Linked DNA regions of Homo sapiens. The protein of the gene in region 1 purifies or fractionates together with the protein of each later gene. This does not show direct contact. Each region holds a gene or a part of one and is shown in the gene's direction. Other genes may lie near its edges. The genes, in order: CNOT8 and LIPM.

Evidence for each region.
Region 2: the proteins of CNOT8 (region 1) and LIPM purify together in Homo sapiens (co-immunoprecipitation; one large-scale study listed by IntAct). This does not show direct contact.

What each region holds. Positions count from the first base shown.
Region 1 is NC_000005.10:154,871,992-154,875,812, forward strand, and holds part of CNOT8 (CCR4-NOT transcription complex subunit 8), read left to right. Parts: intron 1-549; coding exon 550-660; intron 661-3,298; coding exon 3,299-3,448; 3' UTR 3,449-3,821. UniProt on the Homo sapiens protein: Has 3'-5' poly(A) exoribonuclease activity for synthetic poly(A) RNA substrate. Its function seems to be partially redundant with that of CNOT7.
Region 2 is NC_000010.11:88,801,285-88,805,799, forward strand, and holds the start of LIPM (lipase member M precursor), read left to right. Parts: upstream 1-1,445; 5' UTR 1,446-1,612; coding exon 1,613-1,759; intron 1,760-4,515. UniProt on the Homo sapiens protein: Plays a highly specific role in the last step of keratinocyte differentiation. May have an essential function in lipid metabolism of the most differentiated epidermal layers.

The sequences.
Region 1 (3,821 bases):
AGACAGGGTATAATATAAAGCTGATTTGGTCAGATATTTGTGTGGTAACGATCTTTAACCTGGCCATGAAGGGAACCCTCTGCTTCTGTCATCTTAAGGCAGGCATTCTTCACTCGAGGGCCATGAACCTAATGAAAAGGTATAAATGCTGTTTGTTAGGGATGGGGTCTGTGGTATAACAGATTCTTAGAGGAGTTCTTAACTCTAGAAAGTTTTAGAACTTGGTACCGTAATAAATTGTTGACATAGAGCTTTGCTGTCTAGAATTAGAGTGGGATTTACTATTTCCTCAGCCTTGCAATTCTGATTTTAATGGCAGAGTTCTGGAAAAATTAACAACATGGAAAGGAGCAAAATGTAGGATGTAGCACAATATAGCGTCTGGAAAAAGGGAATAAAAGAGCTAAAAAGAGGTTACTAAGGCCTGTTAAATAAATGGCCTGTCCCCACTTCTTGCTAGAATTCAGTGAACTCATAACTGCACTTAGTTGGCTCCAGTAGGGGCATGTTGGGTTTGTAATATTATCTTTGTTCTCCATACATCTCCAGGGAGGTCTTCAGGAAGTTGCTGATCAGTTGGATTTGCAGAGGATTGGAAGGCAGCACCAGGCAGGCTCAGACTCACTGCTGACAGGAATGGCTTTCTTTAGGATGAAAGAGGTAAGCTTCCTTGAATGTGATCACAGGCCTCTCGGCAGTAACTTGCTGAAGGCTAAGGAGGTAGTGGATGGTCTGTTATGTGGGCTGAGGTTTGTTGAACATTTATTTTTTATTTATTTATTATTTATTTTTTTTGAGATGAAGCCTTGCTCTGTCACCCAGGCTGGAGTGCAGTGGTGCGATCTCAGCTCACTGCAACCTCCGCCTCCCGGGTTCAAGCTTTTCTTCTGCCTCAGCCTCCTGAGTAGCTGGGATTATAGGTGCCCGCCACCATGCCCTACTAATTTTTGTATTTTTAGTAGAGACAGGGTTTCGCCATGTTGGCCAGGCTGGTTTCAAACTCTTGACCTCAGGTGATCTGCCTGCCTTGGTCTCCCAAAGTGCTGGGATTACAGGCATGAGCCACTCTGCCTGGCCGAATTTTTTGTATTTTTAGTAGACACGGGGTTTCACTATGCTGGCCAGGCTGGTCTCGAACTCCTGACCTCAGGTGATCCGCCTGGCTTGGTCTCCCAAAGTGCTGGGATTACAGGCGTGAGCCACCACGCCCAGCCACATAGACTGTTTTTTTAGCAAGTTGATGTCCACTTTGAAAGTGGTTGTTTTTTGTTATGGTATTCTGCATGTCACATGTTTGAGAGGCAAAAGCAGCATTCTGACGTGAAAGCCACTTTCCAGTAACCAAGTATTCTTGAGCACACCCAAGTCCAGAACTTCATGTTCTTGTCAGCTCTAATCCTTTCAGTTATTTGCTTTTTTTCTGATTCCTGTAATAGAAATATATTTGTTAGGCCACCTACTGACATTATGGTAAGTTCTGTTAATTATTATTAAATAAATACTATATTGAATTTACTATAACCCCTTAGTAAAAATTAGACTCTTAATTTCTTCTTTTAGTTTCTTTACTCACTGACTCAGGTTTTAAAATATATTCAAAGATGTAGAAGGAGTAAGACGCTGCTTTGAAAAATTGAAATATTGATTTTGTTGACACTTTTGAGGACCGGATCAGATTAATTGATCTGTAGACATGGATCTCCTTTTTAGAACTAAGATTGTAGAGAGGGAGAGTACATTTCCTCTTTGTTACTCTTAATTATAAACAACTGTTACCATGTGTTGGTAAATGTTCTAGGTCAGTGATTCTCAACTGGGGATGATTTTGCCCTGGAGGGTACATTTGTTAATATCTGTAGATGATTTTGGTTGTCACAATCTGGTGGGGGAGAGTGGTGTGCTACCTGTCAGGATGCTGCTAAACATCCTGTGATACACTGGACAAGTTCCCCCAAATAATTATCCTACCCCAGTAGTGCCACAGTGGAGAGATCTTGCGTTAAGTGCTTACTGTTCGTTATCTCATTCCTCATAATAACCCTATTATCCTGTTTTATAGATAGGGAACTATGGCTTAAAAGGAGTTTAAATGACTTTGCCAAGGTCAAGTGAGTCCGGCTGAATCCACAGCCCAAGCCCAGCCCATTGCTCTGCCTGTTAAAGAGAAGGGAGCAGTTGTGTTAAACAGCAGCAGCACAGAGATACTGGCAGTAAAAGAATACATGGAAAGTATGTTCAGATAGGAGAGCCTTTCTCCTATAGAGAAAGGAGCATGAAAAGACTGCATTAAAAGGAAAGGTTTAGGCCGGGTGCGGTGGCTCACACCTGTAATCCCAGCACTTTGGGAGGCCGAGGCAAGTGGATCACTTGAGGTCAGGAGTTCGAGACCAGCCTGGCCAACATGGTGAAACCTGCCTCTATTAAAAGTACAAAAATTAGTCAGGTGTGATGACATGCACCTGTAATCCCAGCTACTCGGGAGGCTGAGGCAAGGGAATCACTTGAGCCTGGGAGGCGGAGGTTGCAGTGAGTGAAACCCTGTCTCTTTTTCTTTTTCTTTCGAGACGGAGTCTTGCATTGTCACCCAGGCTGGGGTGCAGTGGTGTGATCTCAGTTCACTGCAACCTCTGCCTCTCGGGTTCAAACAATTCTCTGCCTCAGCCTCCCAAGTAGCTGGGATTACAGGTGCCTGCCACCACGCCTGGCTAATTTTTTGTATTTTTAGTAGAGACAGGGTTTCACCATCTTGGCCAGGCTGGTCTTGAACTCCTGACCTCGTAATCCACCTGCCTTGGCGCCCCAAAGTGCTGGGATTACAGGCGTGAGCCACTGTGCCTGGCCGAGCCTTTCTATACTATTAGTTTTTTTTTCTAGTTTGGTATATTTTCAGGGCTTTAGGAAGGCTGGGAGGTGGTGATGTGGTAGTGGTTTTTTTCTTTTTTGAGATGGAGTCTTCGCTATGTTGCCCAGGCTGGAGTGCAGTGGTACGGCCTTGGCCCACTGCACCCTCTGCCTCCTGGGCGCAAGTGATTCTTCCGCCTCAGCCTCCCAAGTAGCTGGGATTACAGGTATGTGCCACCATGCCCGGCTCATTTTTGTACTTTTAGTAGAGATGGGGTTTTGCCATGTTGGCCAGGCTGGTCTCGACCTCCTGACCCCAAGTGATCTGCCCGCCTCAGCCTCACAAAGTGCTTGGATTCCAGACGTGAGCCATTGCACCCGGCCAGATGTGATAATATTTATACTTGTCATGACTTCTAGCATAACTCTCACCATGGTTCTCTGTCCCATTCTGCAGTTGTTTTTTGAGGACAGCATTGATGATGCCAAGTACTGTGGGCGGCTCTATGGCTTAGGCACAGGAGTGGCCCAGAAGCAGAATGAGGATGTGGACTCTGCCCAGGAGAAGATGAGCATCCTGGCGATTATCAACAACATGCAGCAGTGATGGCGCCAGGCTCTGCAGGGTGGGCCTGATCCCAGAGTGGTGCTTACTGTGCTGACTGTGTACTTATCTTCCCCAAGAGAAAATGCTTCTTTTGAGCACACTGTACCTACCATCTGCATTGAGCAGAAAGACTTTTGTTTTACTGAAGACAAAAGATGTTTTTATTTTAGACCCAGAAGAGAGGAGTTTGCTCTGAATTTGTAAATAAGTCTTCCCCATTCCTCATACTCGAGCCTCTCCTCTCTGGTTGCCTCCTGCCACCAGCATCCATGGCTCATTTGACACCTTTTTAAATATCAGGACAAGTCTGAAACAAAGTAGTAAAATGTATATAACTCTTACCTGTTGTCATTCTTTTTCTTTTAAATTTGTT
Region 2 (4,515 bases), on another chromosome or scaffold:
CTTTGTAGATTCTGGATATTATCCCTTAAACAACCCCATCAAAAAGTGGGCGAAGGATATGAACAGACACTTCTCAAAAGAAGACACTTATGCAGCCAACAGACACATGAAAAAATGCTCATCATCACTGGCCATCAGAGAAATGCAAATCAAAACCACAATGAGATATCATCTCACACCAGTTAGAATGGGGATCATTAAAAAGTCAGGAAACAACAGGTGCTGGAGAGGATGTGGAGAAATAGGAACACTTACACTGTTGGTGGGACTGTAAACTAGTTCAACCATTGTGGAAGACAGTGTGGCGATTCCTCAGGGATCTAGAACTAGAAATACCATTTGACCCAGCCATCCCATTACTGGGTATATACCCAAAGGAATATAAATCGTGCTGCTATAAAGACACATGCACATGTATGTTTATTGCAGCACTGTTCACAATAGCAAAGACTTGGAACCAACTCAAGTGTCCAACAATGATAGACTGGATTAAGAAAATGTGGCACCTATACACCATGGAATACTATGCAGCCATAAAAAAGGAAGCATTCATGTCCTTTGTAGGGACATGGATGAAGCTGGAAACCATCATTCTCAGCAGACTATCACAAGGACAAAAAGCCAAACACTGCATGTTCTCACTCATAGGTGGGAATTGAACAATGAGAACACTTGGACACAGGAAGGGGAATATCACACACCGGGGTCTGTCGTGGGGTGGGGGAAGTGGGGAGGGATAGCATTAGGAGATATACCTAATGTAAATGACAAGTTAATGGGTGCAGCACACCAACATGGCACTTATATACTTACATAACAAACCTGCACGTTGTGCACATGTACCCTAGAACTTAAAATATAATAAATATATATAAAAAACTAAAATACACAATAGCTGATGATTTATTTACTAGATAATCCATCTAGTCATATCCCAGTGATTAACTAGTGATTACAACTTAAAATAAAAATTTTGTGTATATCTATTTAATTGAACTAGACGAAATGGGCTAAACATGGAAGATTCATTTTCTTCTAATCAATGTTCTCACCCATCCCTAAAAGTAGAAAATGTCCATAAAATTTTAGATATTTTAAATAAAAGCACTTATCACAACACTTATCTTTAACCAAAAAACAGTGATCATTGAAGACCCAGAATATGACTATAGAAACTTTCAGTGCTTTCTGTAGACTCCATCTTTTGCTATCTATCAAAGAAAGATAAAATCTAGGAGTGGAAGGAAAGAGGTTCCCTACACTCCTTATTACCTGGTGATAAAGTACAGGGGTTTTAATAGGCTGTATCAAATGCACAAAATTCCAGGTCACATCAAAGAAAGTTCTACACACCTGGAAGTTGAAGGATTAGGGATTACAAGTTGTGTGAGGGAGGAATGGGAGGAGTCAGATAGTATTGGGACATCCTAGGCAATGTTTCCAGCCTACTTTGTGTTCTTTCCCTACCAACTAAGCTTGCCTAATTTGCTTCAGAATTGGAAGAGGGAATTGCAGCAGGAAAATATGTGAAGAGTTTTTAAACCCACAAATTCTTCTTACTTTAGAATTAGTTGTTACATTGGCAGGAAAAAATAAATGCAGATGTTGGACCATGTTGGAAACCTTGTCAAGACAGTGGATTGTCTCACACAGAATGGAAATGTGGCTTCTGATTCTGGTGGCGTATATGTTCCAGAGAAATGTGAATTCAGTACATATGCCAACTAAAGCTGTGGACCCAGAAGCATTCATGAATATTGTAAGTTGGGATTTCTGGGAAATGAGGTACTTAACATGTTAACGTTTGTATCTGTGTATTATTTACATTATGTATTATATTTATACATGGTGGTGATTCATACTAGAAGAGCATAGTGATGAAGTAGCAAATTGTACTGGAAAGAATGCTAAACTGGATGTCAGTAGACCTGGGGTCTCCTCACACAAATTTAGTAAACTTGGGCAAATGACTTAATCTCTTTGAGCTTCAAACACAATTTAACTTTTCCTTGAACACTTTGGTTCATCCTATGAGTGGAGAAGTAATTAAGGCCTTTTAAGTTCACCCCAGTCCCTTGATTATTTCCATTTTGTCTGTACCTTTTATTCTTTTATTCTTTTTTTCCATATTGCAAAGGTGTCAGCCTTTGCTTCTTGCTATCAGGGCACACACTTCTAGTAGCATCTTATACCATTCTAATCTACTCTTTTTATCCTGTTTCTGGACTGGTACTTTGCTGAATAGCAATAAAAGGACCCCGAGTTAGTGCTACACAGAACCTCCTACAAGTAAAATGCATAAATGACAGTACATCTCTTTAGTTTTCCCAGGAGGTTTTTTTTTTTTTTTTTTTTGGTAGCTTTTCAAATTCTAAGCTGGGTTTTAGTAATGGTCACCCTATGGTAACACTTATCCCATAGCAGGGATTATGACACAAGCAGAGATACTATTCTATTTCAATTTCATTGCCCTGTGCAGTAGATAGGATCATTCACATATTTCAAATCTAGATACTGAGATTAAAGAGGTTAAACAAGTTGAACAAGGCCATACCAATGTAATAGCATAGCTACTATTTAAATTCAGGACTGCCTAAACACAAAGTCTATAATTATAAATACTACGCAATAAACCCTCCCAGGTGAGAAAGAGGAGAGGCTACCTCCAGATGAGTAAGACGATCATGTGCAATGTTCATGTTCCAGAGATTTATCTAACAAACTCTCAGAAAATGGAACTTTAACATGTATTTATACCGATTTAAGACCCTTTCTACAGAAGCTTCCTTATATGGGTTCAAAAACTGAGAGGAAATAGAAATATTCTGTATCTGCATGGTGCTGAATATCAGGTTTCTTTTGACTATTCAATGATTAGGTGGTTTGTCTAGGTAGTTAGCACATTGGTGTCAGTCCTCAGGAGTCATCCTTCTGGCCCTGAGACTGTCCCACTTGAATTCCTCTGGTTTGGAGGTGAGGGGAATCTCTGCAGTGGCAGACAGAGATGATCTTCCTGGGCCCCACCCACTGCGTGTACCCAGCACCTATACACTACTGGGGCTTCAGGAGTCTGTAGACTAAAGCCCATTGAATTGGGCTCTGCCTTTAAGCAGCTATGCCTGGAAAAAAACAAAGTAAAATAGAAAATTCGTACGATTGGTGTAAATTCAACAAAATAGAATAAAAGTAGTTGCAAGTTTGAACTGGTTCTGAGGTAGGAGAAGGGCAGGACTTACTTTCTGGTCCCAACAGGATACAGTGAATAAACAAGCACAAACCAGCAGGTGGTGAAAAAAAAACAGCAAGAACCAGCAGTGGCCTGGAAGGCATCCTTTAGTTGCCCCGGCTGCTCATTAGCATAAGACACTCCTACCAGAACCATGACAGTTTACAAATGTCATAGCAATGACCCACGAGTTAGTACCCCTTTCCATGGCAATGGCCCAGAAGTTACTGTCCCGTTTCTGGAGATTTCTGAATAACCTGCCCCTTAATTTGCATGAAATTAATAGTTATAAGTAGGCATAAATACAGCTGCCAATAGCCCATACACTGCTGACTCTGGGAGCACTGCCTATGAATTAGCTCTGCTTTTCAAGGAGCAGTACCATTCAGTAAAAGATTACTGTCTAGTATTACCGGCTCACCCTTGAATTCTTTCCTGGGCAAAGCCAAGAACCTTCCCAGGGTAAGCCCCAATTTTGGAGCTTGTCTGTCCTGCATTGATTTGACTCTGTATATTCATGCATATGGATTATGGTCTATCTTATACTTTGATGAATAACTGGCCTTATGCATGTATTTTTTAAGCAAGTGTTTACTGAGCACCTACTAGGTCCATGATATTGTGTTATGTACTAAGGTTAGACAGATCTAAGAATATTAAAAGCCCTGACTTTATGGAGCTTATAGTCCAGCAGGAAGGACAGATCATCAATTAGTCATTATAAAAGCAATGAAATAAAAGAAGAAAACATAAAATAGGGGGAACTAATCCAGAAAGCTTTGCTGAAGAAGGGTTTCAAAGCCTGAAATCTGAAAGATAAATGGCAGTTGCTTGAGAGGGTGGTAGCAAAAAGGTCAGCACATAGGACAGCTGGAGCAGCTAAGAACATGCCAGATTCAAGGAGCTGAAAGCAGCTTATATCTGGATGGTCTTTTAAACATTGACTTTTTTATACTATTACAAAAGCAATATATGCTCATTATAGAAAATTTAAAAAATACAAAAGAAGGCAATAGTCACCAATGTACTCTGCACCAAGAACTGCTTTGTCATGCCTTTATCTTCATTCTAAATCTGTGAGGTTTTGTTTTCTTAAGAAGAAATGTCATGCACAATTTACTATTTTCCAACGTTTTTTCTGCTAAACAATGTATATCATGAAGAATTTCCCAACGTTTTAAATACCCTTCTACAACATCATTTCACCTTGCTGCATTATGTTCCATTTTTTTAAATAAGTATTTGCCCCAGGTTGGATTTTCTGGGGGACAGACTCTGAGGCAGAATTC